Linked DNA regions of Homo sapiens. The protein of the gene in region 2 interacts with the protein of the main gene of each other region in a biochemical or structural test. Each region holds a gene or a part of one and is shown on either strand. Other genes may lie near its edges.

The links.
Region 1: the proteins of LRRK1 (region 2) and POLR2M form a complex in vitro, tested with the Homo sapiens proteins (2 studies listed by BioGRID and IntAct, with this or other methods).
Region 3: the proteins of LRRK1 (region 2) and GPBP1L1 form a complex in vitro, tested with the Homo sapiens proteins (2 studies listed by BioGRID and IntAct, with this or other methods).

Annotation. Positions count from the first base shown.
Region 1 is NC_000015.10:57,713,085-57,716,737, reverse strand, and holds part of POLR2M (protein GRINL1A), read right to left. Parts: intron 2,203-3,653; coding exon 2,059-2,202; 3' UTR 1-2,058. Other genes in the region: GCOM1 (GRINL1A combined protein), read right to left, coding at 2,059-2,202.
Region 2 is NC_000015.10:100,925,729-100,929,381, forward strand, and holds part of LRRK1 (leucine-rich repeat serine/threonine-protein kinase 1), read left to right. Parts: intron 1-3,653.
Region 3 is NC_000001.11:45,637,922-45,641,574, forward strand, and holds part of GPBP1L1 (vasculin-like protein 1), read right to left. Parts: intron 2,483-3,653; coding exon 2,289-2,482; intron 1-2,288. UniProt on the Homo sapiens protein: Possible transcription factor.

The DNA.
Region 1 (3,653 bases), about 43 Mb from region 2:
TTAAGAACTTATATGCCAAAAAAAGAGCAAATTCTCCAAGCAAGCAACAGAAAAAATATGAATGAGCAATTCTCAAAAGAATGAATATAGCATGGCCAATGAATATGAAAAAAAACACAACCTTCACTAAGTAAGAAAAACAAATACAAATTTTAAATGTAGCCCTTTTCTGTAATTATTCAATTTGCAAAGATTTTAAGTAGTAATTTTCAATTCTGAGCATTGGATATATTGCTAATGGGAATGTAAATGAACATGATCTCTGCAGTGAGTAATATATATAAAAATTCTCAAAAACACTTTCACCTAACAATTTCATTTTTAGAGCGGTATCTTCTGGAAATAAGTCATTTTCTATGGATGTGATTAAGATGTTAATCATATCACTATTTACAGATTACATTATAATACATAATCAAATTGCTGAATAGGAAATAAATCTTAAAGTTATGGTATACCCATGAAATAAAATATCCTACAGCTGTCTAAAAAGCAAAATATTTAATATGGGAACATATTGACAATATATAGAGCAGACTACAAAGCAATGTACATTATGATTTCATTTTTGAGAATATAAATGCATAACTATGCATAGAAAAATAAGCAAAAACACAACATCAAAATGTTAACAGAGTTTATCTCCCTAGATGGCAGGATTACAGGGAACTGTGTGTCCAGGCACATGAACTCTTCCATATCATCCAGCTTCCAGAAATAACATCAAATTTTACGCTGTGAAATCATTTACTATTCGTTTTAAGAACTAAAACTAATGAGAATCTTAGGTCAGTATACTTTTCACATTTGCTTGAGGGGGGTAAGGAATGAAAGCAATAATTACACCTGGAAGCAAATGTGAACAGTCTTTTTCGAAAGGAAAAAGTTGTATTTAATTAAGTCCCGGTAAAACATCACCTTAGCATTTGAAGTTGTTCTAATTAATATTTTATTCTTCAACACTTTTAAAGACTCCAATATATTAGACAAAGAATTTTTTGATAATGTAAGTTAATTTCTCTGGAGACAACCATATAATCCTCTAAAATGACATGAACGTTTATATATGGGACTGAAGCTTCTGCAGTCTATATATACCTATTTGGGGGGAAAAAAGTAAAGTACTGACAATTCAATTTTAACAAAAAAAAAATGCTTTCCTTATCAAACATTAATGTTGTGTACATGAACCTATCATCTGTGACAGCAAGGAACTCAAGCCAGGTGATGCACAAGCCTTCACCCAGCTCAGTTAGCTTGGGCTTCTCCTGTACCAGATTTGCCTGAAGTAACATGAGGTTATTTAAAAAGACCTCCACCTAGATTGCAGTGAGCCGAGATCCTGCCACTGCACTCCAGCCTGGGCGACAGAGCAAGACCCCATCTCAAAAAAAAACACAAAACCAAACAAACAAACCAACAAAAAAAACCTCCACTTTCCAGCATCTACTCAAAAGGGAAGTCCTTCCTAATCAGAAGAGAGATAACGTTCTTCCTAAGGGAAGACAGAAAAAGGAGAAGAGCATTTGTTAAGCATTCTCCATACATGTCTTCCTAGGTATTTCACATCCAATGTCTCAATAACCCCATGCAAACATGCATACAATTCTTTAGACTGCTCCCTTCATTACCCAAAAAAGAAGGGAACTATGTCTTCCTAATTGATTTTAGGTGCCTGGAACAACTAAGTATTTCACTGAAAGACATGTAATAAATGCTATTTGATAGGTAAGAAAAAGGAAAAAAGCAAAGTTACCTCTTTTCATTTGGCTTAAAGAAAAAAAAAGTATGTTCTACTATATACTAAAATATCAGACCAATACACAATATATTGCAAAATTTTAATACCATGTGGTTAAACACAATATTCAAATATTAAACTTTTCAAGCACATGAAAGTCACCTTCTGAAAGACAAACTGGGCTTTTTTTATAACTACCTTTGTGTAACTTTATAAAATTACTTCCCTCAACAATATCTGACACTGATCTTGATACTAGTTAGAAAGTCTGATGTAAGATGATGACATCTCAACGTCAGTGATTTAGGAGATTATCTTCAGAATTCATCAGAGGACCAATCGTCATCTTCATCCCTTACTTCTCGGTATCTCCCTGAAGACTCCCCTTCTGGATTATAACTCCGCATTTTAATATTCAGTCTTTCAGCTAATTTTTGCGCTGCGAGCTTTGCTTGCATCTCCTTTAAAACAAAGAGCAAAGCACAAAGTTACACGTTCACATCTCTTCCTTACAATTTTTCAATGGGAAGTTACCTAGAATCAGCAATAAGAGGGACACTGACACCTCACTGAGTGCTCCCTTGGGCAATACAAGCCTGATGGCTGTGCCCTATCAGACACAACTGGGTAATGCTTCTGACAGCCACCAGCCTGCTACAGTTGAAGTTACTGACCTCCATTAATATACAACATTGCACTGAAATACACTCCTCTATATAAGAAACTGAGTAATGAGCTTAGCACTACAATACTTATAAATACAGATGCGTTAAATATGGGGGCACATGCACATGTATACACACTCACATAACAATTTGACCTATCAAATGTCAAAAATGACTAATGCTGGGGCCCGGTGCAGTGGCTCACGCCTGTAATCCCAGCACTTTGGGAAGCTGAGGCAGGCGGATCACGAGGTCAGGAGATCGAGACCATCCTGGCTAACACGATGAATCCCCGTCTCTACTAAATATACAAAAAATTAGCCGGGCGTGGTGGCGGGTGCCTGTGAACCCGGCGTGTTCCCGGGTTCACAAGAATGAACAAGAATGGCGTGAACCCGGGAGGCGGAGCTTGCAGTGAGCTGAGACTGCGCCACTGAACTCCAGCCTGGGTGACAGAACAAGACTCCGTCTCAAAAAAAAAAAAAAAAAAAAAAAAAAAAAAAAAAAAAAAGAAGGACTAATGCTGTCTAGATTTCTACAACTGACAGGACCTTCTTCCCTAATTACAATCATGACTTCCAGACTTGGGAATTACATTTCAATGGCAAAATGAAAATCAAGAAATTAATACTAAAAAGCTGACTATTCCTCTCCAAATAAAGTCCTACAGCAACTAGTATCCAATAAAAAGTCCAAGTAAATTTCAGACACTGGCAATGTACTTAAAAACTCCCAAGGACTTTACCACCAACTGATGGTAGGTGGCAATGTCATTCCTAATTCAGTTCTTCCCTTTTCTCATGCTTTCTTGAACTTCTTGATGTCCTCCTCTTCAAGCCATGAATATGGGTCAGTAAAAGTGGGAGCTATTACCACTACAACTTCTCTGCTAAAAAAAAACAATTTAAAGATGAAGGGTTTAATTCAACCTAAAAATATCTTAGGACAGGCATTTAAGAGCTCAGAGACAGTAAACACTTCCTCAATGCTACAGCCATAACTAGACAGTCATTTTAATGCACTGAAAGAAAAATGGTTTTTTTCAAAAAGAGCACCTTGATAATGCCAATCCATGCCAAGGCTTTTATGAAAAGCCAAAGCAGATTAACAGCCTGTTTTGTTGTTTTTTTTTTTGAGACAGGGTCTCACTCTGTCACCCAGGCTATACAGAGTGCAGTGGTGTGACTGCGGCTCACTGCAGCCTCGACCTCCTGAGCTCAAGCAATCCTCCTACCTCAGCCCCACAG
Region 2 (3,653 bases):
ATAAAATCCTCACGACAACCTGGCACATGGTACTTTTATTTCCGTTTTATAGCTGAGGAACATGAGGGTAAGAGAAGCCTGGAAACGTGTTCAAGGTCAACAACTCAGAAATCACAGAATTGCCATCTGAACCCTGTCTTAATGCTGCAACACTCATTCTTAAATGCTAGGCCACACTATGGGAGGTGAAAGGGTCAACAGGTTGGGTCTGAGAGGCCCACGTTTGTACCCTTAACCGTGTTAACTAACGATCGGCCACTGTACCTGGCTTGGCAGACACTTTGTTCAGTTGTTTGAGTGTTTTCACTCCATCTGAAATGTCCAGCAGCTGACCAGGGTGATGTTTCTGGAAGGTGTCGTTTCACATCCATCACATTATGAAATGGGAAACGAATTTGCTTCTTGACATTGCCCAGCACTAAATCTTTCCAGAGTGTTCAACTTGCATCTTTGTAAATTTTCTTTTTCTTTGTATTAGACGTGTGTCTTTTTTCAGTTGTGTGGTAGGAAGACCTTGCTCTGTTGGTGTGAGATCGAGGTGGCGTGGGTGATAGAACGCAGTCCCCGATTTGGGGGTAGCACCTCCACCTTTCCAGTGCACGTGAGGCTCCCTTATCCTCCTGCTGCTCCTCTTCGCAGCCCTGAGGGACGAGGGTGGGGACAGGGACCTTGGGTCTGTTTGGGGCCTGTAGGGTAGGTGACTGTGTCATCTGAAAAAGCCCACAGGAGGCGCTGCTCCCTCCCCTCCTGGTCAACAGTTGGTGATCTAAAGGAGTGCTTCTCAACCACGGCCCACACAGTCACTGGGTAGTGGCTCAAACCGGCAGGGCCCTGGCACCACCTGGACCCACTGGAGCAGCATCTTGGGGCAGGGGGGCGGGGAGTGAACAAGCATGGGTAATTTTTTCTTTTTCATTTTCTTTCTTTCTTTTCTTTTTCTTTTCTTTTTTTCTTTTTTTTTTTTTTTTTTTTTTGAGACAGTGTCTTGCTCTGTCACCCAGGCTGGAGTGCAGTAGCATGACCTCAGCTCACTGCAACTTCCACCTCCCAGGTTCAAGTGATTCTCCTGCCTCAGCCTCCTGAGTAGCTGGTACTACAGGCGTGCGCCACCACGCCCAGCTAATTTTTGTATTTTTAGTAGAGACGAAGTTTCACCATGTTGGCCAGGCTGGTCTAGAATTCCTGACCTCAAGTGATCCACCCACCTCAGCCTCCCAAAGGGGTGGGATTACAGGTGTGAGCCACGGCGCCCGGCCAGCATGGCTAATTTTTCAAAGTTCCCTAGTGATTCTAACGTGTAGCTAAAGTTGAGAATCAGGCCATCTAAATGGTTTGAGTCCCATAGAGCAGCACTTCTCAAATTATCAGGTGCACATGTCCCCTGGGGATCCTGATGAAATGCAGAATCTCATTCAGGAGGCCTGGGGCACAGACAGCCTGCGTTTCTAGGTCCCCAGGGATCCCCCGTTGATTCTTACAGGTCCCAGGGACCGGGGCGCAATGGGCTTTGGACAAACCCATCCCCACCTCCAAGCTCGTGGCAGGACAGATAACCAGAAAATGTTAAGGTGTTCCGAAAGGCCAAAGTGTGGCACTCCCCAGCCCCCATGATTCTCCCTAAAGGCCTGCATCTGAGCTTGGCACTGCTCCTTAGGAGGTGTCCTCTCCTGACTCTGCTCTGATGGCCTCTTTCCCCAGTGGGATCTCAGGAATCCCTGCTATCCCTGTTCTGTATAACCCAAGGGACACACACAAGGGCCAAGGACCCTGACGTGACCTCAGCAGCCTTCACTGTGTACTGTTCAAGGAGCTTGAAGTAGGGACAGGACAGGGAAGTGACACCCTGGGAACCCCTGAGAATGAGGGAGGTGTTTGTGCAGTGACCTAATACAGAGAACACAGAGTTGAAGAGGAGAGGAAGATAGCCTGAAACACCCCAGAAAGTTCTGTCCCCTGTTTAGCATTAAGAAAATTATGTTACATGTTAATGAATTACAATAATAACCAAATCCTCATAAGGAATCTGGTGAGAAGCTACTAATTTATACCCATACTCAGAGTTTTAAGGTCCCACAGGTGGTACCAGCAGAACTGAGCCTGTGAGCCCCAGCCCTGGAGCTCACTAACAGAAGTTATTAATTCCAGGGACTAAAGCCTACAGTGCTCCCTCTGTAAAGCCCAATTTTAACGCATTGCATGTTGGATTTCATTTTCGCAGAATATATTAATAAATGTGTACACTAAGACTACAGCCAAGGAGCAGGTAATGCTCAAAGGGTGGCGTGTGGCCACGTCTGTGTGCTGGGATTGCAGTCACTGTGCTTTGCTCATCGGTGCTGTTTATGTTTCCTGCAATATCTACACATTGCTTTTTGTTTTGTTTTGCCTTCTTTTGCATCCAGACGAATAATATTGCAAGTTATTTTTAAATTATTGTTTATTTAAGTACTGATGATTTGTGTTTAGAATCTAAACGGTAAACCTCCTGTGCTTACATCCAAAGTTAGATCTGCCTCCACTGGCCTCTTTGCCTTGAAGTCTTTCTGGAATAAATGCGGAATACTTGACTTACTATGACTGCAGCTGATCCCCCCGCAGGACTCACCCTCTGCACATGTCCCCAGAGCCTAAGCTGGATTTGTCCCATCCCACCTTCTCCTAGACTTCCTGGGATGATAGGGAGCCCTGTTTCCCCTCTCCCACCCCCCAAATCCACCAGCCTCACTCAGGGAACACTGTTCAGGCCTAATTTCCAGCTCCGGCTGAGAAAAGTTGGCCGCCAGAAGGAAAACTAACGACACTCAAAATTATGTAGGGACAGCTTTCTCATGCTTTAAAAATCCTTGGAAGATAACGTGATTGAAAACGACGACGTTCTTATTATACTTCCACGTGTGCGTTAGAAAAAGACCCACACTTTAAAAAAGAGTGTCTACTCTTGGGTGTTGGGGTAATGGTATTTTTAATTTTTTATTTGTGTACTAGGCACGCCTTTTCACACCCCCTACCTGTTGTGACTTGCGTGACCTCAGCTCATGTTTGTTTACAATGGTTAATCCTTTCAAAGCCCCTGGATGTGGGGGGCTTTGCCCAGCTGGTGTGAGGCTGGGGTCTGTGTGTGTCTGCCCTGCCGTGCGGCCCGCTGTGTGTTTGTGCAACACAATTGTGTCCCAGGAAGGTGTGTGACAATCTCAACCTCATTAGCACCAGCAGCAGTCAGCTCGCCTGCGGTGCAAGAGGAATGGTTGGAAAGCTTTGATGGGCGTAGAGTTTGCCAGCTGACAGAGCAGCTGTCAATGAGATGCTGGGCATGGGCTGCAGGACGCGCATTACTTTGACAAACATGTCATTAGATGTTCATTCTTCTGAGTATGTCTGACACCAGCCAGAGTGGAAAAACCAGTCCCGCCAGCCAAGGAGAGCTGTCCTGGAAAGTAGAGAAGTCAGGAAACTTCCACATAATTCAGGTGGAGAATACTTGGGAAGACTTCTGGATTGCGGAGGGTGGGTGGAACTTGAGCAGACATCACCCAGGCAGTGGCTCGCCCCCCCAGCTCTCTGTGAGTGGCCGTCGCTTCGGTCCTGAAAGCCCTGCCACAGTCACACACCTCTCAGAGCACTGCCCACCACCGGACCCAGCATGGACCAAAGGA
Region 3 (3,653 bases), on a different chromosome or scaffold from region 2:
GAAACTGAGACTGGGAAGTGAAGAAACTTGCTCAAGGACGTAAGATGAAGAAGGTGTAAGGTGAAATCTGTCTATTCCATAGCCCGGCAGTTAACTTCCATGCTCAGCTGTTTCTTTGTAATAGTTGCTCTCTTCACTTGAATTCACATTCTTTCCCTTCTACATCAGAGGAAAATAAACCCTAAGTATCCTAAACCCTTTTCAAAGATAACTGTACTTGTCAATTAGTTTTATTCCCACATATTTCTTCTTGGCCCATAATCCTTTAATGATCTCTTCCAAGTACAGTTCAAGTTGCTTCCAGTGGCTTCTTCCAACAGACTTCCTCATCCATTCACTTATCTTTTCCACTGCCTATATTCTATCTAGTTCCTTTTACTGTCAAGGTTAAAAGGTGCCACTACCTCCACATATTTCCAAAAGCCCTTGAAATACTGTTTCAGCCCTACTTTATTCCCTAAAAACATCAACTCAAAAGTCTCCTAAGATAATCACTAAGGTTTTTTCTCAGTTATTTTCCTCAACTTGTTACCCCTGTTGCTATTGCAAACTCACCCACTTGTATTTCTGTGAGAGTTTACCATTTTTTTCTGAACTAGTTTCTCAGTACTATCCCATTCTTTACTCCTCTTCTATCCTCTTCTCTTCTTCCATCCTCTTCTCTTGTATATCTAATCTACCTTGAAAACTCCAATCATTATCACTAGGATAGTAACTCCCAGTGAATTTATTCAGAGGGTGAGCACGGTGGCTCACGTCTGTAATCCTAGCACTTTGTGAGGTCAAGGTGGGAGGATGGCTTGAGCCCAGAAGTTCGAGACCAGCCTGGGCAATATAGTGAGACCCCAATCACTATTTTAAATAAATAGATGAAAGAAAAGAAAGAAAATTATTCACAGAGAGGATGGCATGCGCCAGAAGAATAATTTCTTCCCGGGTAAGAGAAAAAAGGGGCAATAAGATGCAAAAGATGGATTAGAGTTTGGCTATGAGAAACTTCACAGACCTCTGCTTACTCTGCACACTGACTATAGGACTAGCACACTATGACCCATGGGCCAAATCTTGACCAAGGCATTTCTGTATGATTCATGAGCTCATACTTATTTTTACATTTTTAAAGAGCTGGAAAAAAAAAAGGCAATGTGTAACAAAAATCATATATATCAAGCAAAGCCTAAAATATTTATTATCTGGCCCTTCATAGAAAAAAATTACCAATCCCTGCCATACATTGTTTGGAGCCACTGAAGGAATTCAGGAAGGCATGTGATATATTCAATTGTTTTTGGAATGATCATTCTGGCAGTTCTGTAGGACACAGAGACATGAGAAAATAGAAAGGTATACTAGAACAGTAAATGTGAGAAGACAAAGTCCTGAACAAGGACAGCATAGAGAGAATAACAGGGACTTTGTAATTCCTTGGCTGAGGAGAATGACTAAGGAGGAAGAGAAGAGAAGTAGCCAAGATAGTCAAGCTGAGTGATTAGGATGTTGTTGCTATTACAGAAAACCAGAGGGGCCAGGTGTGGTGGCTCACGCCCATAATCTCAGCGCTCTGGGAGGCTGAGGCAGGAGGATTCCTTGAGGCCAGGAGATAGAGACCAGCCTGGGCAACAAAATGAGATTCTGTCTCTACAAAAAATAATTAAAAAAAAAAAAAAAAAAATGGCTGGGCGTGGCGGCTCACGCCTGTAATCCCAGCACCTTGGGAGGCCGAGGCGGGCGGATCACGAGGTCAGGAGATTGAGACCATCCTGGCTAACAACGGTGAAACCCCGTCTCTACTAAAAATACAAAAAAACACCGAGCCGGGTGTGGTGGCGGGCGCCTGTAGTCCCAGCTACTCGGGAGGCTGAGGAAGAATGGTGTGAACCCAGGAGGTGGAGCTTGCAGTGAGCTGAGATCGTGCCACTGCACTCCAGCCTGGGTGACAGAGCGAGGCTCCATCTCAAAAAAACAAAACAAAACAAAAAATAAAATAAATAAAAAAAATAGCCGGGCATAATGGCGTGCCCCTGTAGTTTCAGCTACTTGGGAGGCTGAGGTCACACTGAGCCATGATTGTGCCACTGCATTCCAGCCTGGGTGACAGAGTGAGACCTTGTCTCAAAAAAATAAAGAAAAAGAAAAAAAAAAAAGCAAAGAAAGCTGTATACATATAACAGGTACTGAAAGAATATCTGGTGACTGATGCGGCAAGAAAAAACAAATTTATTAATTTTTTCCTGATTTATTCCCAAACCTCTCTTGTATAAGGTTCTTGCCCTGATTCTAAATCATACCTTGGAAGGAGGTGGTACAGGCTTAGGAACCAGGTTCTTATAGACACTTGGAACCACGGATGACAATTTGTTCCCATTTGCATGGTGAGATCCTGGTGAGGTGAATGCAGCAGAGAAGGCAGCAGCAGGATCCTCTTTGGAAACTTTTTTGATAACTAGCATCTTGGAGGGTTGCTTGGCACTAGGCGGGTTTTCTGTGAAGTACAAGAGTGGAGAGACAACAGAATGTCAAACCTGTTGTGTAACATGAAGCATAGTTTATACAAAGGCCTTAGTCAACAAAACAGCTGACAGTTGAGACAGAGGGATTAAACATTCCCTGGTATGCACTTAATAGATACTCTCAAAAGTGAGACTACTCAGGAACTGTACAAAAAAATGCAGCATATGAGGAACTGGATACTAAATTTATAAATCAGCCAGGAAGTCCAAAGATGTTAGCAGTCCTTCAGGGGCACAATATGTCTGATGGACAGTGTGATCAGTTAAGCATGAACCCAACAAGAATAAATCCAAGCGCCAGGCACTGTGGCTCATGCCTGTAATCTCAGCACTTGGAGGTGCTGAGGTGGGCAGATCACTTGAGTCCCAAGAGTTCGAGACCAGCCTGGGCTGGCAAACCCTGTGGCAAATCCCCATCTTTACAAAAAATACAAACATTAGCCAGGCATGGTGGTGCACACCTGTGGTCCCAGCTACTTAGGAGGCTGAGGCGGGAGAATCACTTGAGCCCAGGTCGAGGCTGCAGCGAGCCATGACTGTGCCACTGCACTCCAGCATGGATGACAAAGTCAGACCCTAACTCAAAAAAACAAAAACAAAACAAAAAAAAACACCTAAAAGTAGCAGCTCCTGTCAGCATGAGAATAGAGAGATGAGGTAATCAGGGATTGGAGTCTGCCATGAAACCCTCTGATGAGGCAAACTGGAGCAAAGGTATACACCATTAGCAAAGAGGAGAAGGTACATCGATCAATCTTAATCCTACAATACTGGATTCTAAACCCATCATTTAGATATGTTAAAGACTTCCCATGTTCTTGGCTATCAACATGTCTAATGAAGAAACCAGGAGAGTCCAATTTGTAAATGCCAAAGATCCCAATGCCACAGATGAGGTTTGGTTTGAAATACAGATTCCTATCGCACCACTGCACTCTAGCCTGGGCGACAGAGTGAGATTCTGTCTCAAAAAACAAAACAAAACAAAACAAAAAACCACAAACATATATATACACACACATACACATAAACACACACACACACACACACACACACGAATATTTAAACATACATATATATGAATGTTTAAGAATATATTGTTATGGGCTGGGTATGGTGGCTCACGCCTGTAATCTCAGCACT